Linked DNA regions of Homo sapiens. The protein of the gene in region 1 interacts with the protein of each later gene in a biochemical or structural test. Each region holds a gene or a part of one and is shown on either strand. Other genes may lie near its edges. The genes, in order: RALA, PLCD1, EXOC2 and RALGPS1.

What was found.
Region 2: the proteins of RALA (region 1) and PLCD1 form a complex in vitro, tested with the Homo sapiens proteins (one study listed by BioGRID).
Region 3: the proteins of RALA (region 1) and EXOC2 are reported together in a solved structure, tested with the Homo sapiens proteins (2 studies listed by BioGRID, with this or other methods).
Region 4: of the proteins of RALA (region 1) and RALGPS1, one has a biochemical effect on the other in vitro, tested with the Homo sapiens proteins (one study listed by BioGRID).

Annotation. Positions count from the first base shown.
Region 1 is NC_000007.14:39,618,607-39,626,580, reverse strand, and holds the start of RALA (ras-related protein Ral-A precursor), read right to left. Parts: upstream 3,010-7,974; 5' UTR 2,756-3,009; intron 2,255-2,755; exon of another isoform or gene 2,154-2,254; intron 1-2,153. UniProt on the Homo sapiens protein: Multifunctional GTPase involved in a variety of cellular processes including gene expression, cell migration, cell proliferation, oncogenic transformation and membrane trafficking.
Region 2 is NC_000003.12:38,026,642-38,034,021, reverse strand, and holds the start of PLCD1 (1-phosphatidylinositol 4,5-bisphosphate phosphodiesterase delta-1), read left to right. Parts: upstream 1-4,379; 5' UTR 4,380-4,482; coding exon 4,483-4,516; intron 4,517-7,380. UniProt on the Homo sapiens protein: The production of the second messenger molecules diacylglycerol (DAG) and inositol 1,4,5-trisphosphate (IP3) is mediated by activated phosphatidylinositol-specific phospholipase C enzymes. Essential for trophoblast and placental development.
Region 3 is NC_000006.12:487,140-494,159, forward strand, and holds part of EXOC2 (exocyst complex component 2), read right to left. Parts: intron 4,048-7,020; coding exon 3,986-4,047; intron 1,900-3,985; coding exon 1,840-1,899; intron 1-1,839. UniProt on the Homo sapiens protein: Component of the exocyst complex involved in the docking of exocytic vesicles with fusion sites on the plasma membrane.
Region 4 is NC_000009.12:126,910,159-126,917,781, reverse strand, and holds the start of RALGPS1 (ras-specific guanine nucleotide-releasing factor RalGPS1), read right to left. Parts: upstream 3,001-7,623; 5' UTR 2,807-3,000; exon of another isoform or gene 2,770-2,806; intron 2,344-2,769; exon of another isoform or gene 2,289-2,343; intron 1-2,288.

The DNA.
Region 1 (7,974 bases):
TAAAAGAGAAGAATGGCTGCTGCTTGAGGCCACCTGGCCAGGACTGCTGGCAACCCCAGGCCACACTTGATGTCCAAGAGAGAGGAATCAGTATCTTCACCTTCCTGAAGCTCCAGTTCCAGCTCAGTCAGAACTGCCTTTTCCACAGCCATTTAGGATTAACTGCAATAATACTCAGTGCTCTCAGCAATTGTTACTTTCAAATCTAGGCTCTACTAAACACAAGCTAGGTGCCTAGCCTCTGGCAAATAACTTCAATTTACCTTAATAAAGTATGGGAAAACTACCTGTCTTGCAGAAGTGTTGTGGAGATTAGAAATAATTTAAGTAAAGCTCTTATCACAGTGCTCGGCAGGCAATCAACACATGAGAACTCTTATTACCAAGAGGGTTGCTGAATTAAAGAAGGAAAATCTAACCTCTGTATAGTGGTAATGTCACTGAGGTAAGAAATTGCTGGCTTCCCTCTCCTTAGTGTCTAAGAGTTAAAATATTTTATAAAACAATGAAAATCATAAACTGTCTCCTTCAAAATCATAGTCTTTTTCCTCATTAACATTCACAGCCTCTTATTCCAGTATTTTAAAAGTAATTGTCCTTGCCACTCATCTACTAAAGAATACAAATGCATATTACACTGATATGCATATCTACAAGAATTGACACTGGTACATGTATTTATGTTCTGTAGAAGCTAAGCTTGGAAAAACAGTGCAGGACCACCACCACATACTTGGAGAGGAGAGAAAACGTCAGCACTTTCTTCTTATTTGAACCTCCCTAATGTGAAAATAATCCAACCATCTACAGACAAAAATATTCCCTCACAAATGGTAGACAAGATTCTTTTCTATAATTAGCCCTTTCTTCCTTTGGAAAGCCCTGTGAAGAAAGTGTTGTAATGAAGTACTGCTTCAAAATAAATGATCCATATTATTGCACACTCAGCAAACACACTAGAGAACAGCATCTGGATCTTGGAAAATAAATGTAAAAGAGGCTATTGGTAAATCATGCCAAGGTCACATCAGGATTTCAGAGGATTGCGTGTATTCATGGGAAGAATGAACCACTATAAGCATTCTGGGAAGCACCACGTTATCCAAACAATGGTAACTCCTAATTTCCTCTTTTTCATTAAGATAGGGTACAGTTATCAACCCCAAACATAAACTTGATGTGTATCACCAGGCAGTCTCTTCCTACTAACTCTGAATATGCTCAAGTAGTAAGCATTTAACACTAGAATACAAGTTATAATGCCCAGCACAATTTTAATATAATTTTAACCTTTCAGAGGAGGATAGTTTTGGAAGGCAAAGAACTCTGACTGCTGAAGAATGAAACACGAAGTAAAGTCTGTAAGTGGCAAGAACCTAAAACAAAACAAACAGCCTAGCCCAACAAAAATAAGCAACTCCTGGATGGTGACTGTGAGATAACCTATACACTCATTCATTCAGTGCAGAAATGTGTGAACAGCTTCTATGTTCAAGGCATACTGCATAGAAACAGTCATAAGTAGGACATGGCTCCTGCCCTAAAGAAATCCAAGGTCAAAAAACGGTGTTGTCAGATAATACTTCACAATAATAGTGTATTATTTTAATACAGGAGTCGGTTTAGAATAATATTGTATTACCAGAGACAGAAAAACATGAGCTAATAAGACACACTGAAATACATTAATAAACATACTGTAAGAGTTTACCAATGAAATCTGTTATCCAATTTCTGGAATATGATTAAAGTTGCAATTTACTTTCTGGAAAAGAATTAACTTATGATACATGTTTTATAAAGGTTGTTCCCCCCCCACACCACACAATTTGTAAATTAGGTGCTTTTCAGCTTGACACGTAGGGCGTGGCACGGGACTTCTCACACTACCTCAGCCACACTTGGATGAGCTCTTACAAGTCTGGACATTCAGGTTTCCGAGCACAGGCCAGTTAACTCCCTAATTCTCCCTAAATCCTGAAACAACACTGCCACCCCTGTGTGCCGTCACCCCCGTCTACTTAAACACATATATCCAGGCTAAAGCATGCCAATCACATCTTCCACTTCTGGAAATCTTTCAGAAACGAACCACAGAGGAAACACCTCTCTCCCAAAATGTATTCTCTTCCTCATATTAGAAGCTAGATTACCTGAAAATGGGCTAAAGCTGTGCAAGCGCCCAAGGCCAGGTATTCAGTTCAGTGCGGAGAGTCTAATGACTTTAAGTCTGAAAAACCATTCCTTTAACTGGCAAAAAAAAAAAAAAACACAAACAAACAAAACAAACAAACAAAAAACCCTGGCGGAGATGCTTAAAAAGCAGCGGCTCTAGCACAGGCAAGGAGTGGAAAGAAAGGGAAGGAGGGGAGAGGGGTGGAGTGAGGCGCGGGGACTGCGGCGGCAGCGGGTTGCCCCAGGTCGCGGGCACCGCCCGGGCGGGAACTTGGGCGCCGTGGACGAAAGGTGCGGGGTGACCTTCGGACGAGGCCAACTGAGACCGGCTGCCGGGCGCAGGGGACCTCTCCGCAGCCGCTCACTCTCGGGGGCTCACTCGCCCCACAGCGGCGAACGCGGTGCCCCGGATTCCAGCCGGGCTCATCTCGCAGCTCGTCCCCGGGCAGAACGTGGGATGTGCAATCTCGGCAGCCCGAACCCGCGTCAGGGCCTCGGCCCGCCGCCGCCCGGACACACCCCCGCCGCCGCCCGGGTGGCCCCAGTCCCTCCCCGGGCGGCCCGAGCGGGCATCGCTCACCTGCACCGCGAGCCAGTCCGCCGCCCCGAGGGCTCCGGAAGCCGCGGCTGCGTGGCTCCGGCCGGAGGGTACTCGGTCCTTGTCGCCTGGAAGGCCCCGCGCCGGGAGCGGTCGAAGGAGGAGTCTGACGGGTGGCGGGGGAGCCTGGGCGGCTGGAGGAGGAGGAGGAGGAGGAGGAGAAGGAGGAGGAGGACTCCGACGCTTTGCTCTGGGGAGATCCACCCTCCTCCTGGCGGCTCTGCAGCAGCCGCCACAGATCACTTCCGGGGCGCTGGGGAGCGGGGCGGGGCAGCTGGGGAGCGACTTCCTGTCCGTGGGCTGAGAGGAGGGTGATCATGGGCCTGGGCCGCAGAACAGTGGCTCGGAGGGCGCAGGCTGCCCGGCCTCCGCCCCCTGCAAGCTGAGGGCTGTCCGCGCTGTCTTTCCGACGGCCCCACCCCCGGCTCTCTGAGCTCCGCGAGGTGAAGTCATCTCCCGGGGGCTCGGGAGTGGCCGCGGGCCTCGCGGAGGTTCCCGGATCTCGGCGTCGTTGCCGCGGTGTCCTTGTCTTTCTTTTGGGGACCAGGAGGGGGTTCTTGGGGGAAGGAGGGGAGAGCGGAGGCCGCCATCTTGCTTCTAGAGGGTCAGCTCATGTTCCCTGGGCGTCTCAGGGTTGAGGCCGCTCGTGTGGCGTGGCCGGGGGTATTCAGAGCGGAGCTGGCGACGTGGCTTGTCACGGGCCAAATCCCAGGAGGCGGGTCAGCCGCCTACCCTGGCTGGAGGGTCTCGTGGCTGCCCTGGGCCTCATCTAACTGCTGATCCCCTGGAGAATTCGCTTTCTCGGACGGTCTGCGAGTTCTTTCTGAGGGGTGTCGGACCCCCCTGCGACTCTGCAGGTGTCGGTGTGGCACTGAGATCATCTTGCGGCCCCATGGCACTGTGATTTGGTAGCTTGTGAGAAGTAGTTTCACTAAATCCGTAAATTTAAGTTAGCAGCTACAGATTCTTATGTCTTGACATTTATTCGCTTATCTCTCTTTGCTCCCCACAAATTGAGTACCAACTATATTCCTGGTATGAGCCATTCAAGGAATGTCCAGTCTAGTGGGCAGACATACATGAAAGCAAATCATTGCTATTGGAAGTATGGTTTATCAAGATGTACAGCGTGAAGAATGGATAGCTTTACTAACGTAGGTTAGAGTTTTAAAGATAAATAGGCATTTTCTACTACAAAAATAGGGGTGGGATGGCAAATCCGGATCCGAACAGAAAGGAGATGCAGCACGGGGACAAATAATTTGTTGAGAAGAATGAGTAATAATTACAGGTCTTGAAGTTCAAACTTAGGTTGCTGAAGAAGATGAGGCTGGAGAAGAAAACAGGAGCCAAATCACGAATCGTCTATGCCTTGGTGAGGCAATGAGTGGACAGATTACAATTTAAGCTATTCTTCTGTTGGTAGAGAACAGATAACTTGGGGGGGTGGAGGTGGGGGGGCAGAGAAGGATAAGCAGAGAGCCCACAAGGGGGCCATTGCAGAAGCCAGTAAGAGAAAACTTAAGGACCCTGTGTGAATGGTAGTGAGCATCCAAAGGAGATGGATTCCTAAAATATTCAAGAGGCCATATCAACTGGTAATTGGTTGCTAGGGGCAGCTGCCAGATAGGAGAATGGAAGAGGCAATGATGATGCCTTGTTTTGCTTTGAGGGAGGGGCAGGATAAGGGTGTATTTTACTAAATAAGATAAGGAAGAGTTAGGATGAGTCCTGGGAGGGGACATTTTTGCAGAAAAAAAATGAGTTCAGTTTTGGAGTTGATGAGTGAAGTAAGAGTGGTGCTGTCTAATGGTGGTTGCTATATGGGTCTAGAGCTCTAGGGAGGAGCTGGGCTGAAGTTGGAAACACCACAGGTTTAGATGACCATAACCAAGCTGACTGCAGTCTTACGTCATTGAGCACAGTTTCAAAACCACTTCTCCTTTCTCCCTGCCTTTACTTGGGAAAATTACTGAAATACTGCATTAAAAAACCCAATATGGTGATATGTGTCCATCCATAGACCAATATTCTAATGTTTAATGGTCTTCTAAGGACCCTAAAGGTCAGGTTTAGCAGAAACTGGATGTAACAGTGGTAACTATTAATAGTATAGCATCATTAACTCATAAAATGAAATATTATCTATGTTTATATTTTAATATTTTAATTTTTTTCTTTTTTATTCTGTAGGAATTGCTCCATTCCAATAAAAATATTTTAAATTTAATCATTGACAACAGTTAAGCTGGCCATAGGCTGAGGATTGAGGATGGTGGGTTGCACAAATATCTGCTGAATGGAGAGCTAGAAGGAGGATGACTTCAAGAAGAGTCAGCAATAGGAACGCAATGAAAGACAACCTCAAATTCATTAGTCAGCCTGTCTCAGCTGCTTTTTGGTGGCTCACAGCTATGCTAACCTAGCATAAAGCAGTGAGAAATAGAATACTTCATTTTGAGCAGAGCTTCAGAAAACCACAAATAGTAAAAGCCCTATAAATAATAGCTACAGCTGCAAACCAAAGACTAATTATTAGTTTTTAACTCTATATCCCTGTAGAGCAGCATTTTTGAACACACAAAAAAAGAGAAACGCGTTCACTTACGTCTTAGATTATTTAAATACAGTATTCTCAATTTGTCTAGGATAAAAAAGCATTTAGGTGTATTGAACAACCATATAATGGATAATATACTGAACAGGAAATGAGAATAATTAGCTTGAGTCCCTTTTTTGTCAGTTGTTCACCGTATGACCCTAGCAATGTTACTTAACCTCTCTATGCCCTAGTTTCTCTGACTGTAAAATAGAGATAATAATAACTTTCTATCAGCCGCCTCTCAAAGATATTATAGGAAATAACAAATTAATGCTATGAAAGCTCTTTGAGGTACTTGGATGAAAGGGCATAATTGTAAGTACATATTATTAGTAATTAGCACTAATATCCAGTAGCACCCATGAGCATTCCTGACTTTGCTGCCTGGATTACTCAAAGAACATGAAGGATCCTGTTTTGAAATACACTTAGATCTTTTTTCTTAACTTGTGAATTGACTTTACTATTTATGATCAAACCTTGTGTATTAACAAATATAGTTAATGAAAGAGGGAAGTAAAAAGAAGTTTTGGTAACCACAACTTTTATATTCATGCTACTCATAGCTAATATATGCTTTGGGGGAAAATACAGGGTAGATAGGGATTTGCCAGAAGCATGTTTTAGAATTAATGATTAGTCTACTCCAGTCAGTTAACTGGAATTTTGTATTAAAAACATTATTCATGTCCCCATAGAATAATGCAGTCCCTATAGAATTTATAGACAGTTACATGTTTGACACAATTAAGTTGAACATTCCTGTGAAACTCTGTCATTCTCATCACTGTTTAATCACAAACATGTAATGAAATATATAGACTTGTGAAGTTTTGTCCAATGTCTATCCCTAAAGTAGATGAGAATTTTTTCCATTAAATTGGTGACTTCAGTATTTCCTTTAGAGAGGTGTATGCATAATGTAAACATTTAAATGTATTCATGACTACATAATGTGCATGTTTATTTTTATACACTTGCTTATATACCAATTTATAAAATTATCATATAATGTATATTAACTATACATCTGGGAACAGCAATGACAAACAAGGCTTCTTTGTGTTTTAGGGCCAGATAAGAAAGTAATTGGTTAATAGCCATTTGTCACCACTGGTGAAAAATCAACTCAAAATCATGTTTTATTATTTATTAGAGTTATGAGCATTATCTATAAGATTCATGACACCATGACTTGGTGTGGTGGCTCACACCTGTAATCCCAGCATTTTGGGAGGCCGAGGCATGTGGATCGCTTGAATACAGGAGTTAAAGACTAGCTTGGACAGCATAGGGAGCCCTCATCTCTATTAAAAAAAAAAATTAAAAAAAAACAACACTAGGCAGGCATAGTGGCATTCACCTGTGGTCCCAGTTACTCAGTAGGCTGAGGTGGATCCCTTGAACCCAGGAGGTCGAGGCTACAGTGCCTGTGATCATTACACTGTACTGCAGCCTGGGCAACAAAATGAAACCCTGTCTCAAAAAAGAAAAAAAATTCCGTGACACCTTGACATTTGTACTATTTCATTTTGTTTTCACAATTTTGTGAGATACAAATTGTTGAAAGAAATAGGCTCAGAGTGCTGAAAGACTAGCGCTCTGAGACTAGTTTTTAAAGACTTAAAAATTCACTACAGTTGTCAAGTAACATACCCAAACACACATTTTGAGATTCTCAAAATATATTGTTTCTTTTAGTACTTTATACCAGGGTCACCAGCTTGATATGACAGTCCAGAATGTATTTATAATATGGACATTTCTGGCTTATTATTGATTGCCTGCAGCATCTCCAAAATTCAGCCAAACTTAACGTTTTTAAAACTGAAAACTACAATTCTTATGTTTATGGCTGTATCTTTACCAGCTTGAAGACAGGTACATTGTTTTATTCATTTTTGTATCCTTCATGGTGCCCAAAATAAGTACTCAGAAAATATTTTGGGGATGAGTAAAATGTATATTGTGATGTTTAGTTGAATTAGCGGGAAAAAAGCTGATACAATCACCTCAGAAACTTTTTTAGGAGGTCGTACACATTTTCAGCACATTCATGTGAAGATAGTTTATTTGGGTTTGTACTTTAAATTGGTGGAACCATTGCCTCAATTTCCCACTTCATTTTTAATGACGTCATGCCTTGGAGAGATAGGCTTAAGTAGGTGATGCAGATGACAGTCACCTGTATGATATGCCTCTGGATATGTTTGTTGGGCTTAGATAGTCCGGATGACCCACAACAAAAGGGTCATCTAGAATATCTAAACACAGCTTTAATGAGAATGTGTAAAGAGTGGGGTTATGAGAGTTTGGGTCTTCATAATTCTCCCCTTCATGCCGACGACCCTTGTGGACCACATATTTCTATACTTTTCTGTCAAGGGATTAGAGGATAAGACTACTCTATCAGTGGTTCCCAAATGTGACTGCTTATCACAATCACCTGTGTAGTTTCAAAGGCAATTCAGATTCTCAAGTCCCACTCTAAACAGAAAATATTTAGATTTAGGATTAGAAAATACTGGGTGAAGTCCAAGGCATCTGTAACTGTAATAACACTCTCCCTTGAATTCCAATGATCAGTCAGGTTTGGGAA
Region 2 (7,380 bases), on another chromosome or scaffold:
CACCACCACTCCCAGCTAATTTTGTGTGTGTGTGTGTGTGTGTGTATTTTTAGTAGAGACAGGGTTTCGCCATGTTGGCCAGCCTGGTCTTGAACTCCTGACCTCAGGTGATCCACCGGCCTCAGCCTCCCAAAGTGTTGGGATTACAGGCGTGAGCCACCGTGCCCAGTCATAAAAGGTGAATTATTACAAGGCCCAACAGGACTTGGTCCCGGTTACCTCTCTTTCTCCTCCCATGATCAGCCCGCCCCACTTCCCCGTTCTCTTGCTCTCTTAGCTCCAGCCACATTGGCCTTGTCCTCCTTGCTCATCCTCCAACATACCAACACCCTCCTGCTTCAGGGTGTATTTCCTGTGCCTGGAATCTTCTGCCCAGATATCTCTAAATGTCTCAGTCCCTCACTTCTGTCAAGGCTTTGCTTGACTGTCACCTTTCCCATAAAATCCAGCCTGATCAACCCTTTTAAAATTTAATTCTGTCAGGTGAGGTGGATCGCTTAGGGTCAAGAGTTCAAGAGCACCCCAGCCAACATGGTAAAACCCGTCTCTATTCAAAATACAAAAATTAGCTGGGCGTGGTGCCACACACCTGCAATCCCAGCTACTCAGGAGAATCACTCGAACCTGGGGGGCAGAGACTGCAGTGAGCTGAGATCACACCACTGCACTCCAGCCTGGGCAACAGAGCGAGACTCCATCTCAAAAAAAAAAAAAAAAAAAAAATTAACCCTATCCCATTCCTGAACTGCTTTAACCCACTTTTTTCATTTTACTTATTATCTGCTAATATCCTGTACAATTCATTTCTTACATTTGTTAAAATGTCTCTTTTCTTTCCATTAGAATTTGGGCTCCAGGAGGGCAGGGGTTTTTGATGTGTTTTGTTCACAGATGACTCCCAAGCCTCTAGAACAGTGCCCACTACACAGTAGCTGCTCAATAAATATTTGTTGAATAAGTGACATAGCAGAACAGTTTTCAAATGTGGGTCTCTTCAGTTCACACATCCCATAAGTGTGTTTCCTCCTTCAGGTGAGTTACCCTCTGCCTCCTCCTTCAGATAAGGGTCTGAGGGCAAGTTTCCTGTCTGTTCCCCATGCCAAGCACTGTATTCTGCCTCTGGGGTGGAGGTGAGCATTGGGACTCAGTCCACAGTGAAATAAACATCACAGTTACATTCACAAATGAATACACAATAAAATCCCACAAATATAATTATAGAATAGTAACCCCAAATAATCCCATACTGTCCTGGGACTACCAGCAGGTCCAGCAGCCTCATAGTTCACTATGGCATCCTGGATCCCTGCAAGGTCAGGACCTGAGGATCTGACCCTGCATGACCTGAGGACTCTCACTTTGCCACAGCTGCTCCCTTGGGAGGAGCAGCCTTCACTTTTCCTCCTGATGCATCTGGACTTGGGCCCATGACCCTCTGGAGGGAGCTCCTATGGGGGTTTTGCAGCCCTCAAAAGCAGCAGGGGCATGACCTCAGACCAACAGCCTCAGGTTGGGCTCTGGCCACCTGGATCTGTAGAGGAGGCCAGGCAGAGGATGGCTGTGGGAATATGGGATTCTGGTGGCCTTCTAGCAGGTACTTATTTGTGCCCTGTACTTGCCATCCATTACTTCTGCCAGTTCTAAGGATGATTATAGCTCCTGATTGAGGAGCTCAGAGAAGCGAAGTCACTTTTCCAAAGTCTTAACAGCAGGAAGCTGCAAAGTCAAGATTTAAACAGCCCCTTCACCCCATATCCTGGAGCAGAGGCTCTAAAGACAGGGAGGGGGCAGAATAAACCCCATTCACCTCACCTACCCAAGCTGGGCTAGGTTTGCATTTCATGGGGGAGGGACTGGAAAGGGCCAGCCCTGAAGCACGCTTGGAGCCTGACCATCCTGAACGTTGGCATTCTTGGGTGATAATACCCCCTCCTCAGGCCTCCAGAGAAAGTAGTGGTGGAGAGACCAAGTGAAGTGGCTTGAGGCAGGCACTGGTGCCAACACTAGGTCTCTCTTCCCTGTCTCCAGTGATCCCAGAAGCTCCATCACCCCATCCATCCTCACACAGACATAGAAGACTGGGCATGGTCAGGAGAGTGAGATGCCAGAAACTCCCCCATTAAAGAACTAGTCTTTGGGGCATGTGTGGGCCCTCTGTGTACCCAAACTAAGCCTGCCAAATAGCCCTCTGAGTCACCGGGATCTCAGGGCATCTTGCACAGGCAACTGAGAGCTGGGTTTTGAGGAGGGTAATTTAGGCACCTGGCCAGGGCTGGGCCCACAGACGGCCCTGGGAGTTGAGGGCAGAGGGAGTGAAGGCAAAGGGAATGGAATCCAGCAACTTCGTGACTTGGTACAAAGCCTCTTTGCCTCCTCTGAGCTCCAGCCCCTCCACACAAGTTCACTCATACCACACAGGCTTACCCCTAGCAGGAACCAGCAGAGCACCTCCCAGCCTGTGAGAGCCAGGAGGGGCCGATAGCCAGGGGAAGAGAGGAGAGGACTGGAGTGAGGGCTCACCCACGGCTCTGAGCAGCCGCCGGGTTTCTCTATGAGCAGGGCGGGGCCCAGCCCTCATGTCTGGCAGAACCTGGTTGCATGTGCCAGCTCTGAGTCAGCAGTGCCCATCCTGCCCAAGAACCCTGGGCTAGGGAGGAGGCTGCAGCTCCTATGTCTGTGCCAGGGGCCAGAGGAGGGATTCTGTGAGGTGGGTTTGGAGCATGCAAAGGAAGAGCCTGGCTGCATCCCCACCATGGTACATAGACAAAGGGAAAGGAGAGGCTCCCAGGTAATGTCCTGGCTTGGGGCCTGGGGCTCAGAGTTGGGAGATGATGTGAATACATAGGAATGATGACTGAGATGAAGCCATGTCCACTCCTGGTGTCAGAGTTTCACTGTGACGCTGCCTAGGAAGAGGAGGGGGGCTTGAGGAGGCCTGATTTGCTGAGTACAGGGGCTTGCAGGCTCCAGGAGTATCAGAGGTGCAAGTGGTAGGCTCCAAGGCCTGAGGAGGCCTCCAGAGGGCAGAGAAGGGGACCCTTCTTCCCCACTCATCCCCTGTATGGAGGTCCAGAGTGATGCCTGCCAGTATGAATTTGCTCATCCCTCAGCAAACATGGAGTGTGGCCCTGGGCAGAAGGGAAACCAAGGAAGGAACTGACAGGCCTGCCCAGGGCAGGGGTGTTCGCACTGCAGGACAGGATTGGAGCTGAGTGCCAGGTAAGGGGTGAAGCCCCGTCTGTGGAGAGGGGGCATGCAGAGCAGGGGGCTCTCCAAAGCCCAGAAGTCCTGATCCACTTTTAACCCCCAGAACCAGAAGACTGTCCTTCAGCTGTTTCACATCCCTTATTCAAGGCCACCTAGGGCCCAGAAGAGGAGGGATTGGGGTGAGCCCAGCCCCCTCCCCGCAGAGCTGGTCCAACTAGCTTTGCCTGACTCTCACATTGGCCTTATCAGCCCAGGAGGCCTGGGTGGCTTCCTGGGAGGCCCTCTGGGGGCTCTCTGACACCAAGAGCCCAGTTTTCCCAAGGGACTCTCCAAAGGGGTGGTGGGCAACAGGATCTAGGGACCCTCCCAGGGTCTGTGGTGGGAGGGGTCTCTGGGCAACCTATAAAGGGGGTTTTCTGGGTCCCAAGAGTTAGGGGGTGGGTCTGCATAGGGACCTTGCCCAGACAGCCCCTTGGGAGGCCACCTGAAGAAGGGACCCTGGGGATCCTCCCCCTCGGCTGCATGGATCGCTGGGGTTTTGGGATATGAGTGGCTCAAAAGTGAAATCCGTGCACCTGCTTGCTTCCCCCTCCCACACCCCCAACACTCCACCAAAGGCACTCTTGGGGTTAGAAACCTCCCAGCGAGAGGGAAGGGGACCCTCCTCCCGACAAGGTCCAGGTATTGCTCTCTGAAGACCTTCTAATCGTGTCCGTGCACCCATTTCGCAGAAGGGAATGCGAACGCTGGGAGCTGCGGCTGGAAGCCTGGACGCCGCGTCTCCCTAGCGCAGCAGCCCGGCTGGGCGTCGGACCTTACACGATCCCTTCCCCGGGATGACGCCGGATTCTTTCCAGCATCACCCCGACCCCAGCGAGGCGCCCACAACAGGGCGTGGGGCCCGGCCGCCCGCGGTAATGACAGGGCCCGCGGCCCGTGGGTGGCGGCGGCGGAGGAAGCTGGAGGAATCTGGCTATTTCTGGTCGGGGCGCGCCCGCTGGCCCGGGCCAGGGTTGGCCAGTCCTCCGGGCCCCCAGCTCTGCCCTCCCTCTCGCGTCCCCAGAAGGGGGCGGGGAGAGACGAGGGTTGGCGGGCTCAGGGGGCGGGGGCGCAGGGCAGCGGGGGCGGGGCGGTGTCCCGGGACCACCCCCGGCCTCCTCCCACCGCGGTCCATTCAGGTCCCTGCACCGCACTCCGCTCGGACCCCAGGCCGCCGGTGCTGTCGCTACTCAAGTGAGTCCCGCGGTGCCCCTCCCGCCGCGCCGCCCGTCGGGCATGGACTCGGGCCGGGACTTCCTGACCCTGCACGGTGAGTGCCTGGCCCGCGCGAGCGGGAGACCCTGCAGGGGTGGACCCCTGGAAAGCTGTTCCGGGCCCTGGACAGGGAGCCCCCAGCTCCTTCGGCCGCCTCCACACCACCCCGGGCCCGCCTCTCTGCCCCTTCTCCGGACTGGGAAAATCTCAGCCCGCGGCTCCCTGGGTGGGACTGCCGGGCACGACCCTGGGCGTTTCCAGGCTTGTCCGAGATCTAGCCCGGGGGGTGGGTGGGCGGGCGGTACGGGTCTAAAGACTTCCCTCCGCCTCGCGGACCCCCTTGTCCTGGTCATGAAAGTCTGGGCTCCACGATCCCGCTCGCACGGAGGGGCGGCGAAGGAAGGAAACAGCATCCAAGAACGACCAAAATTCTCCTTGCCCCATCCGGGCCGCCCCAGAGGCTCCCCAAAGCCTGGGCGTGCCTGGACCGCGTCAGGCCGCGCGGGTGTGGCGGAGCAGGGGCTAAGCGGGTGGGGAGAGGAGGTGTGCAAGGTTAACCGTGGTCGGGCCGTGCAGCCTTAACTGCCCAGCGCAGAATAGTCAGCGATGCTCAGGCTGAAAGAAGCAGCACGATCCCCTCATCTGCGACCCTCCTCGGGGGACAGGGCCAGGTCTCAGCCGGAGCTGCCTGCTCCATCCTTTGTCCAGCGGAGCTTTGTTTCCTCCAATATGAGCCAGCTCTTTGCCCTTTCGCTGTCCCTCCAGCAGCGAGGGGAGCCTGGGCTCCCGAAGGCAGATCTGGAGGCCTTCTGGGAGGCGGGAGGTTGGGGAGGGTAACTTTGGGCGCCTCTTTGCTCCAGGACAGGCACTCACTCACTCTTGGTGGGGGCTTGCCCTCCTGCCCTCCCAGGTCACTTGCCATCTCAGCAAACCCTGCTCCTTTCATACCAATCACTGCTTTACTGTATATCCCTCTCTTTTTTAGTACCCTTGGGGTTGGAGGCTTTAGTGGCCACCACCCATCCATCTAAACTGTTCATGGACATAATAGATGGGAAAGAGAAGGGCAGAGTCCTCTAGCCTTCCACTAGAGTCCCCCTGGAATTTAGAGGGACTTAGAGATGTTCCCATCAGCCAGCCTCCAGTCTATCTCGTGTTCTGCAGTTGGCACAGACCTGGTCCTCCTGGCCCAGAGAGACCTTGCTCTGTGCCCAGAGCTGTTGCTTTTACACCAATAGCCTAGGCTCCTTAAAGCCACCTTGTCTAGATGAGTCATGGAGTCCCTGCCCCTTCCAGTGCTCCCTCTTCTTTCTTCAGGCCAGAGGTGTCTTTCGTGCGCCTGCCAGACTAGCAAGAAGGGAGGCTGGGCAGCTGAGAGGACACAGTGGACATCTCTGCTTTCTCTCTGACACAGCGTCATTCCTTGGCTCCTGTTGGAACAGGCTTCATCCTCAGTGTCTGTGCCTTTGTCCAGTTTCTCTCCTGAGGCAGCCTTGATATCTTTTCCATGGAGGAAGACACATGGAGGCTCAGTCAGGACCTCCCAGTCCTGTGGCATAGGCTTGGCTGCCCTGGCCCACCCCATTTGAGACCAGCCTCCCAAATGCCTAACTCAGTCCAGCCTTTCCTGAAGGGTTGACATGAACACTGTGACCCCAAGCTGTTTTCCCTGAAGGCCCTGCCACTTCTAGCTCATCACCCAAAATTACCTCAACTGCCTTCTGTCCACACTGCAAACCAGATGGGGAAATAAGAACCTGTCAAGGAGAATTGTTGGTGGGAGGGGGTGATCACTGTGCCCTGTGCTGTTCCAGGTTGTCTACACTTGCATTGGAGAGTCTGCATCCGTTTCACAGTGTGGGTGCCCCAGCACTGGATGTGCTGCAGGACCACACTCTCTGGCCTAGGGCTCCACACTCTCTGGAAGGAGCCCAGAGGGACTCCTTCTGTTGGCCTGGGGAGCTATGCGGCTCACCTAGATGTGACATGTCCCTTCTGTCCTCACCCCAGATGCATGCAGAAGTAATGTAGTTTACTGGCATAGATTCTGAAAGCAAAGTACCTGAGTTCAAGTCTTGGCTTTCTCATCTCAGATGAATCCCTTGACTTCCCTGTGTGTCAGTTTCCTCATCTGTAAAATGGGGGATAATACCATCTACCTCATAGGGTTGCTACGAAGATTGAATGAGATAATATCTACACAGCAGTTAGAACAGTGCCTGGTACCCAGTGAGTACTATGTTCCTGCAGGAGGCCCCCTCCCCAAATTTCTATGCCCTATGAGTTGCCATCTGTAGTTCTTTGGGAGATGATGGGGGCATCATAAGGTAGTTCCTAGTCATGGAAAATAGGGCCAGAACTAGATTCAAGAGCGAGCCAGCCAGCTCTTTCTAGTGCCTCTGAAGCCCTCAGACTGATGCGACAGCATCCATCCTCCTTCCTTCACCTTACTTCTTCCACTCTTTATTCTGGCTATGCCTGGACTGGCTTCTCTAGCAGGTCCCCCGATGTGCCCCAAAGGACATTACCTCCCAGGGCCCTCCCCTCACTGAACACCCCCCACATACACACTAACTTTTCCTACACCCAATCCCTTTTGCCCCCACCCCTGCAAGAGGTGCCGTTTGTAAAAACAGAAAATAGAGGGGCCTCATCTTGGCCCCAGTAGACCTGGGCTCCAGTCCTAGCTTTGGTTCTACTTACTGTGGGTCTGAGAATCATCCATGGGATAGCAGTACATATTTCACAGTGGGTGTTGTGAACATAAACGCCAATGGGCATAGAAATTCTAGGTTGCCCCAAAAACCAGTCCTCCAAGAGATGATGATTCCAGAGCTCTTAGCAAGTTGGGGTGGCCAGCTCCTCACTCACCTGTGTTCCAAAGCAGTCTGCCCCTGGGCTTCCAGGCCCATGCTACAC
Region 3 (7,020 bases), on another chromosome or scaffold:
GGAGTGTAACAGGCTACAGCACGTGGCATGGCTGCACCCTTTCCCCTGCTGCCCCTCTAGTCAGCCTCTTCCCTAACCCCATCTCCCAGCAGCCACTGCTGACTTTCCCTTCCTCTCATTTTGTATTAACAGGTATTAGAGAGTGGGGAGCGAAAGCAGTGAGTTAACCACCAGGGCAAGCAGGGTTAGGGGCTAATTCCACTAGGCAAATCGCTTTGCTGCCTGATATCGCAATCTGTTTCCCCAACTGATGTGATACAGTCATCTAATTTTTTTTCTTTTTTTCAGATGGAGTTTTGCTCTGTCGCCCAGGCTGGAGTGCAGTGGCGCGATTTCGGCTCACTGCAACCTCCACCTCCCGGATTCAAGCAATTCTCCTGCCTCAGCCTCCTGAGTAGCTGAAACTACAGGTGCCCGCCACCACACCCGGCTAATTTTTGTATTTTTAGTAGAGACGGGGTTTTACCATGTTGGCCAGGATGGTCTTGATTTCCTGAAGTCGTGATCCGCCCACCTCAGCCTCCCAAAGTGCTGGGATTACAGGCATGAGCCACTGCGCCCGGCCCAAGTCATCTAATTTTTAAAGCTAGGAAGGATCTTAGAGTTTTCCTGGTTTGGATGCAGCAACCAAGAACTGGGTTTAACAGTACTGAGGTCAAGAGATTATTTCACGGTTTAACAATGTTCAATATTAGAATGCTATCCCCACAGCAAATCTAAAATATAGTCCTGACCTGGGGCCATTTCAGGGTGTGTATTGTTCGTGACACACTACCTTTTGAGCCCTGTTCCACATATGAAACGTAGCAGTGACTGTTTCAATCTTTTATCATATTTATTTTAAAGAAATGAACAGGGTTTGGAACCAATTCAAATAGAGGATGGAAGTTAGAGAAGCAGCAAGAAAAAGGAAGAAAGGGCTGATTGTGCAGGCACTGTCTGCACAGCTGCCATGTGCCCACGTGGGATGCGTGCGGGGCGGGGCGGCGATGCCCCCGGGGACTGATGGTGGAAGGGCTGGTCTGCTGCCTGCTCTGTGCGTCGATGCCATGTGACAGCTCCCCCCCATGGCCCAGCCTATGTGATCTCTCTGCCCTGCACTGAGTCTGCACTGCATTCACGGTGCCAGCATTTCAGTCAGTGCACCACATGTGCCTGTCTATGGGCCCGGCAGCCACGTGCAGGGCGGGTGGTGAAGGAATGAAGACTGCCTCAGCTCGGGGGAGCCTGGGCATTTATGAAATTTACCTGGCCTAGATTTTCTCTTAGGTCCGTTTCCTGTTCTATGAGTAGTAAAGTTTAAATTCAGGTTGAGATCATCAGTGTGGTCTAATGAAATATATATGTATATATAAAACTTTATTATGCCATATGTGCACATCTACTTTCATAACATTTTGTATTTTATAGAACACAAAATAAATACTACTGAATTACTCAAAAATTAAAAAAAAAATCACCGACTCCTGCATTTTACTATGCTGTCTTCTTTTTTCCATTACTTCTTATGTATGCTACTAATACAGTTTACTGAATAAGTCATAGATAGCTTTCTTAAGACCTTTTCTATACCAGTCACTTGAAACGAGAGCCAACTTCTAAATTCTCCTAAACCCAGAAGAAAGGTCTTACCTTATTCTGTCACTCAGAAGACATGCAAGTTACAGGTGACGAGATGTACCTACTAACGCTATTAAGTAGGTATATCTGCTTATTCTGATTCTTATTTGGATTCTGCTCTTCCTAGAATCCAAATCATTATTTTTAAAAGGTATTTTAGGAAACAAAACCTTGTTGAGCACATTCAACTGGCTCCTAAGAACAGCACACAGGACTTACTTTTTATCTGCTCCACTGGAAAGCTGGGGCAGGGCTTCCAAAGCCTGCTTAAAACTTGACCTGAAACACAAACAGCCACACTGAAGTTGAAGCCTTGCACAGGAGAACTGCTGACAAATTCTTAAGCATCCCTTAATTATTGAGAAGCCAATAAAAGCCAGTGAAGCAAGGAAATATGAGAAAAAGTAAAAGTGAAAAACAATAGAAAAAGTAAAAGTAAAAGCGAAGGTGTAGCTACCAGGTGGAGGCTTTGTAGCAACGGGGTCAGAAAAACTCAAATAGGAAATGAAACGCTACTTGAAAAGCTAAAGGAAAAACATCTTCGAAAGGATGCTAGTGATAGAGGAGAGCTTAATGTGAACATGTTTAATTTAAAAGGAGTCTTTTCAAAACAAGCAGCTGGGGATAATCCAGTTACTCTAAGAAATGGGGATGACCTTCTGAAAGATGACACAGTGGGGTGTTTACAGTATTTGGCCTGCACAGGGCCTGATCTACAGCCAATGTCTTGTAATAATTACAGTCTACTTAAAACTTGTAGAAAAATGGAGAGCTATATAGATGCTTTAAAAATTCAATGTAAGTTCTTTACATGAAGGTAAAAGGAAAGAATTTTAAAAAGAAAACTGTGGGATGTTTAGCTTTTACAAGGAGAAAGTATTAGAAAAATTACCAAACCAAATGAAAAGCATCATAGGGGAGACTGTGGTAATTAACTTGTACCATTCACAAAGGAACAGTTCTTTTATCTCTCTTATGATTGGTTAAGGTGAAGAAATACTGCAATTCTTGACTTTAGGGGGTCGTTGCTTTTATATTGTAAAAACATCCTCAATCTACCAGGAAATACGTTTTTGAGCAATATTCCTCAAATCAGGGGCAAGTGTCACAGCAACAGAGAGAAAGACTGAAAAGTTCCAACAGAGTCATAAAACCCGGTGCTGGGCATCTCCAGCTGCTCCCGGGAGGGCGCGGTGGGGTGTGGGACGGGTGGCTTGGCGCACTCGGGTCCCTTCCCACATTCAGCGGCCTCTTTCCTGGTGTGGAAGCCACTGCCGCTACCTCCACCATCAGCTTGTTTCTTATGAACCTCTTTTTGATTAATTGAAAGAAATGTGATGTAATTGTTTTGACAGTATGACAATAATGATAAACATACTACATATTATTGGCAGGGTACTGAAAATTAAAAAGTGATTTGGCACATTTTCTCATTTAACACCCTCAAAAGCTTGCCTAGAATATTTTAAACTTCCTCTATAGATGAGTACCTTATACTCTAAAACTAAGTCAGCAGGAAGAGGGTAGGCATTTGCATGAAGTGTGCACACATCCAACATGGGCTGGGTGCTTTCCATCCTGTTAGTATGTTGTACAGACAAACGATGGCTGGGAAAAGGTGTGGCTCAACAGTGAACATGGCCCACTAAAAATGGCTGCTGGTGAGCTGTGACCGACGGGAATGAAAGGCTAACTTCATTGGTTAGGAAAAAATGGAAAACGTATTTTCAGTTGCAAAGCTGACAGAATGACAGCAAGCCATGTTATCAGATGCTGGAAATGAGTGAGTAAGCATATTACAGTGTCCTCAAACATTTCATTTGCATACGACTTGGCTTCTCAGGCACATCAACACTATAACCCAGTATTTCCTAGGTAATGTTGCCCACGTAGTAAACAATTTTGCACAGACAAACAGTAGTTCTGCTTCACTTCACCTACTGATATTTCAATGGTAGGAAATCCTGACTTTCATTCAAAACAGCTAAAAATTATCAAATTTCCACTACAAAATTTTGCAGAGAAACCACAAGGCTTCCTCTTATACTGATATTTACAGCACTTGAGCTGTCCTTCAGAGTCTGCTATGAACAGACTAAGACTCAGTTCTTATCCTCTTTTGCTTTAAGAAGTATGTCATACTCTGCTGTATTATAAGACTAAGATTTGTCAGTAGTAAATGAAAAAATTATATTAAACCCCTTTCATTTACATTGTGTTACAAAGTGGCCTTGACATAAACTTTATCACATCACAAATTCATGAGCATGTGCTCTGATCAGTCATCTTTACAGAGGACAGAATTGACTAGTAAGACAACCTTTATTTTTAATAGAGCACTCAACTAAAGAACACTGCCACTTACTTGCTTTCGGGTGTCAGGTAAACAGCCACAGTGTCCCTCAAAGCACAGATTTCAAGTCTCGCCTGAAAATGAGAAAAAGACAAAGTGACAACAGGAAAATTTATATTATCAAATATAAACAAGTACTAAGGTTAAGGGTCTCCAGCCTGCTCATCGTAGGATGGGGTTGGCGTAATACCACCATGGTGACCGCCAGTCATGAGTAGAGTTTCTAAAACAGTCCGAAGAAATTTGCTACCACAAAATGTTCGTTGACTGAAAATTAACTTGTAGTCAAGGATGACTGTGTGAGGGCAGGGAACTAGATATCTCACTATGAAAAGTACAAACTGTGTCATGATTTTCCAGCCATCTGTATTTACTCTCTAACCACTAATTTTTCTTTTAGTCTTGCAAGAGGAAAGACACTTTGAAACACTGCCCTGAAAGGGCCCGTGTCCCACAGAGGTAAGGATGTGGCTTGGCATGCTTCCTGACACCTATGCCCTTGCAGGCACACTGCCTTAATCTCAAAACCTAAACTCTGCTCTATGGATTCAATGCAATCTCTATTAAAATCACAGCTGCTTTTTTTTTCCTTAATGGAAACTGGCAAGCTGATTGTAAAATTCATAAGGAAATGCAAGGCACTCAGAACAGCCAAAACAATCTTAGAGTAACACATTTAGAGGCCTCAGACTTTCTGACTTCAGCCATACTCCAAAGCTAAAATATATTTAAATATTGTATACCCTCATATTTATGATCAACTGCTATTCAACAAGGGTGCCAAGACCACTCAGTGGGGGAAGAACAGTCTGTTCAACAAATGGTGCTAGGGCAACTGGATATCCACATGCAGAAGAATGAAGTTGAATCCTTTCCTTAACACAAAAATTAACACGGATCACAGATCTAAATGTAAGAAACTTATGAAACTATCAGAAGAAACCCAGTGTAAATCTTTGTGACCTTAGGCTAGGAAACCCTTCTTAGAAATCATGCCGAAAGTATAAACAACAAAACAGATAAAGTGGACTTCACCAAAATTAAAAATCCAGTGCTACAAAGACACCATCCAGAATGTGAAAGGACGACCCACAGAATGAGGTATCACTTCACACCCACTAGGATGGCTATAATCAATAAGAGACAATAACAAATAATGGTGAGGATGTAGAGACATTGGAACCCTCAAAAATTGCTGGTAGGAATGTCTGCCACTTTGGAGAACCGTCTGGCAGTTCCTCAGAAGATTAAGTATAGAGTAACCACATGACCTAGCAATTCCGCTCCTTGGTATGCACGCACGAGACATGAAAACACATGTCCACACAAGAACTTGTATAGGAGTGTTCACAGAAGCATTCTGCATATTAATCAAAGGTGGGAAAACCACAAATGCCCATCAGCTGATGAATGGATAAATAAAATGTGGCATATTTAAAGTGGAATATTATATGTAAAAAGAAGCGAGGCACTGGCATATGTCACAACATGGATGAACCCTGAAACATTACGCTACATGAAAGAAGCCAGTCACAAAGGGTCATATTTTCATGTTTCCATTTATACGAAATTTTCAGAGTAGACAAATCATAGAGATAGAAAGCCAATTGGTAGTTGTCTGTAGGGGGAAAGGGTGGTTTGGGAGGCAAATGATTAGACTTAATGGGTCAGGGGTTTCTTTTGGGATGAAATGTTCTAAAATTGATGATGGTGATGACTGGACAGCTCTTTGAATATACCAAAAATCATTGAATTGCATATTCTTTTTCTATTGTAGACAGATCGTATGCTATGTGAAATATTTCATAAAAGTTTTAAGAAAAAAGTTAAGCTTTCACTTCTACGCAAGCATGAATAAGTGTGATCTGACATACAAGTCAGTTTCCTGGGAGCTCCAGCAGACCCACTGACAATGATAACTTGATGTTCTGAAGTAGGTGCCCACAGTGAGTGGGACACACAGGAGAACATTTAAAAGAAATATCCCTTATTCTCAAGGAGTGGACAAAACATAAAACAATGACAAAAGACACAGCCAGCTCTTCACAGTTTATTAGAAATTCTGTAAGCCATCTAGATCAAAGCAGATATATATGACACAGGATATTCAGTGACCTTTTTCTGTTTGGAAGGCAATTGTTTGGTTTCATTTTTTCAGTCCCTTAGAAGCCTGAAAAACAGTATATAACTAGAAAGTTACAAATGCTAGAAAGTATGACAATTTCTGTCTCTATTTTGTTTATATTCTAGTATAGGTAAAAACAGACCTACCAGGAAAAAAGGTAGAACTTTCAGCTGACCATTTTAGGAGAAAGATTAAATTACTACAAAACCAATCTTCTGGTAGAAATTTTATTCAATCAAGGTGATAGAGTGTTTTAATTAACCTGTAAGTTATGCCAATTATAAAAACTGTGGTTAGCTATATAATACCTACAAAACTGTAATCCAGAAAACATCATGCTAAAAGATCTGCCAAAATCACCAAACTGTCACTCCCCTTTTCACCAAGCTCTCAGGACAGTTCTGGAGTTTGGCACCTAATTGCCTATCAAAGGTTAACCTGCTATCCCTCTTAGAGCTATGGCCTCAAGGAAGGAAGCTCTCAAAGTCATTCTCAGTGGGAGAGTGAAGCGGGAGTTTAGACTCACGACCTTTTTCAAAATACACATGTCTGTCCAGGCCCGAGGAGGTCTCAAAAACTGGAGGCTGGAACAGTTTGATGGCCAGTAGTTTCTGGACATGTGTACGTGAAAAAATTTTCCAGCTAATTCTGAGATCACTTTCCAACCTCTCCCTGCTGGTTTTGAGAGTGGTTTAGCCATCAGATAAATGGATTACGGAGGTAATGTGTAGAGAGGGCGGATGCCTGTTAAAATTCTAAGACTGCTAAGGCCCACAGTAGCGACTGCGACTGCCTGTTAATTCATCTGTAGTATTACACAGTTTATACTACTCATCTCCTGTGATGGAACTATTATAATAACCATGACCTTTCAACTTAAACGATAATATCAAAGATCTGATACATCAATTTTCAGAGAAAA
Region 4 (7,623 bases), on another chromosome or scaffold:
CAGAATTCCCTGTCCTGCTCTCCTTGCATGTTACATGCTGTTCTGAGTAGCTTGTGTTGAAAGATGGGCAGGCAGTGAGAGACAGAACAGGACCCTAACCAGGTGGATCAGGTGCCTTCTCCCCTCCCGTCTCATTTATTCTTCATAACAACCTCACAAGGTGGGCATGGTTATCCTTGCTTTACAAATAAAGAAACCAAAGCTCTGTGAAGCTAAGGAAGTAGTGCTGGTTCACTCAGCAGGAGGTGGCAGCCTGCAGTTTCAAACAGACCTGACTGACTTCCAAGTCTGAGCTCTTACCCTCCATACTGAAAAGGAAAATCCATTTCAAGAGGTGGGCCATATCACAGAGCCTCACATGCAGTATTTTTCATTAATGAAGTATTTCTCTCCACCCTGAATGTTGCTAATCCCCTCATTATTCAACACATGTTCTAGGTCTTCTTTGCCACCAAGTTTGAGCTTTCCTTCTAACCCAAAGAGCATGATGGTCACTCAGACAGCAGCAGTCTCTGAGAGCCATTAACACCGCTTCTGCCAAGACAGAGTGGGAGAACTCTCACATGCTGCTTCTAGATCCTCTGGGACCTGCCACACAAGCACAGGCACCAGTAAGGGCCTAATCCCCTCAATGCTACTGGGTCACCACTGCACCAACTAGTGGTAATGAGGGAGGCCAGCACCATGGTTCCTGGCCCCTAAAGTCCCACAGCTTCTACAGTGAAAAAAAAAAAATTCAGGTTAGTAGAGAAGGCTCCACCTACCTTCACTTCTGTCCATGCAACGAAGGTAGGAGGCATTACAGTTTGGACTGGTCAACTACCAGTGAGCAGAGGCACTGGGCTTTGAAAGGTCACATATATGGGTATACAACACTCTTCTGAAATTCAGAAAAAGCCCTGTCATCCTGCTTCCTTCTCCCCGCCCCTGTGGGTACACAGTGGAGTCAGGCATTGCCTTCTTTTGGGGGTCTTCTTTTGGGGATTTTTGTGTGTTTTGAGATGGAAAAGTCTCACTCCATCGCCCAGGGTGGAGTGCAGTGGCACGATCTCGGCTCACTGCAACCTCCGCCTCCCACGTTCAAGCAATTCTCGGCCTCAGCCTCCTGAGTAGCTGAGATTACAGGTGCCCGCCACCATGCCCGGCTGACTTTTGTATTTTTTAGTAGAGAGGGGGTTTCACCATGTTGGCCAGGCTGGTCTCGGACTCCTGACCTCAAATGATCCACCCGCCTTGGCCTCCCAAAGTGCTGGGATTACAAGCGTGAGCCACCGCGCCCGACCCTCTTGGAATGTGGTAAAATCGGGGTCTGTACTTGGATGGGGGCAGAGGGACTTCCATAGCCTCAGGCCTGAGCTTTATGTTCCAGCTCAGAGTCCTCACCGGGGTTGGGGTCTAAAGGTCAGCAAACAAATGTTCTGCTGCTTCCACTTGCCACTGCTCCCTGCGTTGCAGCAGCTCCCTCAGAGGCCTCGCAGAGAGAAGCAGTCACGATCCAAGACACGGCTGAGTCTTTTGGGAACTCCCAACAAAACCTCATCCCAAACTGCGAAAAGACAGTGGTCTAGTCTCACCTCTTAACTAGAAACAAACCCTCTCTTCTTTAGACTCTCCAGTCCCTGAATCCAACCTGCCCATCGGCACAAGAAAAAGGAAACTCATAACTTTATCCAGCGATTTGCTCAGTAGGCACTGTTTCATCCTATCCTCACCAGGCCCCTGGGAGGCACACAGGCAGGTACTAACATGCTCATTTTGCAACGGAGGAAACAGGTGAAAAACTCTCCCAGGTAGCATAGTCAAAAGCTTCTGAATTCTCATCCCTGCTCTCCCCACTTAACAGGCTGCCATTTCAGTCTTTTTGAGACGCACTGCTGAGATCTACAGCAGCTTCTGGTACCAGTGGCCAGCAAGCCAGGACCCCTCCCAAGCCTCATACTACTCTTCAAGCACACACATTTTTCAACAACCGATCATCCAATGACAACCAACCCCCCGCCCCCCGCATCCTGGCAAGCCCCTTCAATAGCAACAGGAAAGCCCCTGAGGTGCGAAAAACAGCGCGCCCCACTTAGGGCGCGGCGTAGCATAGGGGAGGCAACCGGCCAGTAACCAGGGCAGCTGAGCTCCAAGCCCGAGTCAGCAGAGGCACAGGCAGGCCCGGACGGCCCTTCTAGCGGCAGCCCCGGATGCCCCCAGAATCCTCAGGGAGCCCAAAGCCCCCGCTCCCACCCAAGCACCCCTGGGCAGCGGAGAGGGCGGCCTTTCCTTCTCGGGCGACCACTCACCCTCGCCTGCTCCTCACCTGGGGCCCTGCTTCCGTACCGCAGCCACCCGGGCCCCGCCCCCCACCGCTGCAGGTCCCCGGGCCCCGCCCCCCGCACCTGTGCTTTCCTTGGGTCCAGCGCGGGCCGCACCCCACAGCCCCGCCCACGGCAGCCCCGCCGGCCCCGCCCCCCGCACCTGCAGCCGCGGCGCCCCGCCCAACTGCCCCCCCGGCCCCGCCCCCCGCGCCCGCGCCTCTTCCCCGCCGTCCTTCACGCTCCCGGGGACCAGCGCGCCCCTGGCCCCGGACCCCAGAACCCCCGGACCCCGGCCAGGCCCCGGCGCCGGGCACCCGCAGGCACGGCCCCGGCCCCGCCTCCCGCACCGAGGCCCCTCCCCGGCTTCGGCGGCCCTCGGGGTCCCGCCCCCCACACCTGCAGCTCCCTCAGGCCCGGCCTCAGGGCCCGCCCCGCCCCGCCCCGCCCCGTCGGCCGCGCCTCTCACCGCCGCTCTCCCCGCCGCCGCAGTCCCGGCCGGTCACCTTGACGCGGGCCGCAGTGGCTGCCGCCGCTTCCTCATGGCCCTGGGAGCGGCCCAGCGGCAGCGGCGCCTTCGCTTGGAGGCCGGGGCCACGCCGAGCCGGGCCGGGGCCGGGCCAGGCGCAGCTGGAGCGCGGGCAGACGCGGGAGCGGAGCCGGTGCCCAGCCGCAGTAGGAACCGTCCGCTCCAGGGCCTGAGCGGCGGGCCTCTCATCCAATCGGCGCGCGGCACCAGAACAGCCCCCCAACCAGCTCGTTGTAGGGGCGGAGACACGCAAATCGGCCGGCTGGTCGTACCAGTGCGCAGCCGCTGCATCCGCGGTCCTCCCGGGCCTCGGCCTCCGAGCTCATCTGCAGACGCCCTCCCCGCCCGCAGGGATGCTGCGCTGCCAGCACACCCGGCCCGCCGCCCGCCACGCCCATCCCCTGCCTAGAAATAGCCGCGCATCTTATTCCCCACACGGCCGTCCAGGCCTCACCCGATATCCCCCGTAAATCCCTACCTGGGATTTATCGTTTTCAACAAAAATGGTTTTGTGAGCGAGACATCGCCTTAGTGCCCATTCTTCACAGCTGGGAGGTAGGCACAGAGCCCAGAACGTCAGAGCCAGAAGAAACCTCGGAGTTCCTGGCGGGGCGGGGGGGGGGGCGGTCTCATCCATTTTACAGCTGGGCAGAGTTAGGCCCAACGAGGTGAAGGGACTTGCCCAAGACCACACAGGAGCAAAGCTGGGGAATGAGCCCGGATCCTGTCTCTCTGCTCCCACATCTTTACTCTGTGCCAGGCACGGTGAGGTGGGCACAGAGGTTAAGTCATTTAGCTAGAGTCGCAGGGATAATAAATTGCAAAGACAATTGAAGCCAGGTCTGTGAATCCCTGGAAATCTGGAACCACAGCAAAACTCCGTTCTGCCTCCCACAGACAGGAGGTACTATGACCTGCCCTACTCCGAAAGATTCTTGGACAAATAGAACATCATTCTGACAATCTTCAAAGTAATTTTGCAGTAATATGAATGAATATGGAATGATTGGTTATTATGCTTCCCAAAGCTTATGAAAGGAAAAAAGAAACAAACAAAAAAGAATATAAATAGAGTCAGTAGAAGTTAAACCACCTGTGTCTTAAAAGACCTCTGGGAGAAGTTTCTGCTATTTTGTATTAAGAAAACGGTAATCATCGAAGAAGGTGCTTAATTATTTTGCATAAAGAGAACAAGAGCCTGGCGAGTTGGCTCATGCCTGTAATCCCAGCACTTTGGGAAGCCAAAGCGGGAGGATTGCTTGAGTTCAGAAGTGTGAGACCAGCCTGGGCAACATGGCCAGACCCTGTCTCTAATAACAATACAAAAATTAGCGAGGCGTGGTGGCGCAGACTGTAGTCCCAGCTACTCAGGAGAGTGAGATGGGAGTATCACTTGAGCCCGGGAGGTCAAGGCTGCAGTGAGCCTCAAGTGATGGCGCCACTGCACTCCAGCCTGGATGACAGAGCGATACCCTGTCTCAAAAAAGAGAGAGAGACCATCCTGGCTAACATGGTGAAAACCTGTCTCTACTAAAAATACAAAAAATTAGCCGGGCGTGGTGCGGACGCCTGTAGTCCCAGCTACTCGGGAGGCTGAGGCAGGAGAACGGCGTGAACTTGGGAGGCGGTGCTTGCAGTGAGCTGAGATCGCACCACTGCACTCCAGCCTGGGCGACAGAGCGAGACTTCGTCCCAAAAAAAAAAAAGAAGAGAGAGAGAGAACAAGAGACAGTGTAGTGCAATGGTTCTGCCCTGGCTCTGCCACCAGCAAGCTGTGTACATGTGAGCAAGTTACTTAGCATATCTATGTGCCTCCGTTTCTTTCTTTTTTTTTTTTTTTTTTTTTGAGACGGAGTCTTGCTCTGTTGCCCAGGCTGGAGTGCAGTGGCACGATCTTGGCTCACTGCAACCTCCGTCTCCCAGGTTCAAGCAATTCTCCTGCCTCAGCCTCCCAAGTAGCTGGGATTACAGACGCCAGACACACCATGCTCAGCTAATTTTTGTATTTTAGTAGAGATGGGTTTTCACCATGTTAGCCAGGTTGGTCGCGAACTCCTGACCTCAGGTGATCTGCCTACCTTGGCCTCCCAAAGTGCTGGGATTACAGGCTTGAGCCACCGCGCCCAACCTGCCTCGGTTTCTTTATTGAAAGATGAGAATGATAAAAGTAGCAACCTCTTTAGACAGGCTGTTGGCAGGAATTAATGAGATGATACATGGAAGAGTGCCTGGCACCTAACAGGACCTCAATAAACATTGGCTACTATTATATTTACCTGTGTGACTTTGGGCAAGCACAGAAGTGTGTGCAATGTACGCTTGCTAAATGGCATCTATACTTTTATTATGCTTATGCATACTTTCTAAGTTTTTTCAATGAACACAGATTCTTTTGTGATATATTAGAAGTTATTATAAACCCAATTTTAAAATGAGGAAAGGTCATTTAATATTGATTCTTGATGCTTCCAGAAGGATGTATTCATTCTTTCTACAAATATCTAATGGTTCTCTGCTATGCGCCAAGTGCTACTGTAAATGCTGAGAAAACAGCAGTGAATAAAAGAGACAAAAATTCTTGTCCTCGTGGAGTTGACATTCTAGTGGGGTAAGGCAGCTATTAAAATCAATATTTACAGTAGTAGGCTAGATAGAGAAAAGTGCTATGGGAGTAAAATGAAGCAAGGAAGAAGGGAGTTCAACGTTAAAGAAGACAGAAAAGTTTAGATGGTGATAAGCGAGAAATAATAGGTTTCTTAAAGCAATAAAGCCAAGTGCAGTCTGAGAAAGAGAGAGAGAGAGAAGGATCTGAATAGACATTTCTCCAAAGAAGATACACAGTGGTCAATAAGCACATGAAAAAGTGCTCAATATCATTAGCCATTAGGAAAATGCAAATCAAAACCACAATGAGATACCACTTCACACCCATTAGGATGGCTACAACAAATAAGATAGACAATAACAAGTGTTGATGAGAAGGTGAAGAGAATAGAACCCTTGGCTGGGCGTGGTGGCTCACGCCTGTCTCCCAAGGTGGGTGGATCACCTGCGGTCAGGAGTTCAAGACCAGCCTGGCCAACATGGTGAAACCCCATCTCTACTAAAAATACAAAAAAATTAGCTGGGTGTGGTGGCAAGTGGCTATAATCCCAGCTGAGGCAAGAAAATCACTCGAACCTGGGAAGTGGAGGTTGCAGTGAGCTGAGATGGCGCCATTGCACTCCAGTCTGGAGGACAAGAGTGAAACTCCCTCTCAAAAAAAAAAAAAAAAAGAGAGAGAGAGAATGGAACCCTTATACACTGCTGGTGGAAATATAAAATGGTACAACCACTTTAGAAAACATAGAGTTAGCATATGACTCAATCACTCCACTCCTACTTACCACCCAAGAAGAAATGGACACAACATGTCTGCACAAAAACTTGTAGACAGGTGTTCACGGCAGCATCATTCACAATATCAAAAAATGTGAATAACCCAAATGTCTATCAAGTGATGAATAGATAAATAAAATATGGTTTGTCTATACAAGGAAATGAAGTACTGATGCATGCTACGACATGGATGAAACTTAAAAACATGCTAAGCGAAAGAAGCTAGACCACGTATTATATGATCCCTTTTATATGAAATGTCCGTAATAAGCAAATCTATAGAGATGGAGGGTAGACAAAGTGGCTGTCTAAGGCTGAAGGAGAGGAGGATTTAGGGGCAACAACTTAGGAGTTTCTTTGGAAGAGGATGAAAGTGTTCTAAAATTAATTGTGGTGATGGTTGTAAAACTCTGAATATACTAAAAGCCATTGAATTATACTCTCGCTCTTTTTTTTTCTTTTTTTCTCTTTCTTTTTCTTTTCTTTCTTTTTTTTTTTTTTTTTTAACAGTCTCACTCTGTTGTGCAGGCTGGAGTGCAGTGGCACGATCTCAGCTCACTGCAGCTTCTGCCTCCTGGGTTCGAGCAATTCTCCTGCCTCAGCCTCCTGAGTAGCTGGGACTGCAGGTGTATGCCACCACACCTGGCTAATTTCTGTATTTTTGTAGAGACAGGGTTTCGCCTTGTTGGCAGTCTGGTTCTGAACTCCTGACCTCAAGTGATCTGCCCGCCTCGGCCTCCCAAAATGCTGGGATTACAGGCATGAGCCACCATGTCTGGCCGAATTATACTCTCTAAGTGGGTTAATTATATCTCAATAAAGCTTTTTTTTTTTTTTTTTTTTGAGACGGAGTCTCATTCTGTTGCCCAGGCTGGAGTGAGGTGGCACAATCTCGGCTCACTGCAACCTCCGCCTCCCGGGTTCAAGTGATTCTCCTGCCTCAGCCTCCCAAGTAGCTGGGACTATAGGTGGGTGCCACCACACCCGGCTAATGTTTTGTATTTTTAGTAGAGACAGGGCCAGGGTGGTCTCGATCTCCTGACCTCATGATCCGCCCGACTCGGCCTCCTAAAGTACTGGGATTATAGGTGTGAGCTACCACACCTGGCCAATAAAGCTATTTTTTAAAGTTATTGTTGGCCAGGCGCAGTGGCTCACACCTGTAATTCCAGCACTTTGGGAGGCCAAAGCAGGCAGATCAACTGAGGTCAGAAGTTTGAAACCAGCCTGCCCAACATGGCAAAACCCCGTCTCTACTAAAAATACAAAAATTAGCTAGGTACAGTGATACATGCCTGTAGTCCCAGCTACTTGGGAGGCTGAGGCAGGAGAATCACTTGAACCCAGGAGGTGGAGGCTGCAGTGAGCCAAGATCACACACCACTGCACTCCAGCCTGGGCAATACAGTGAGACTC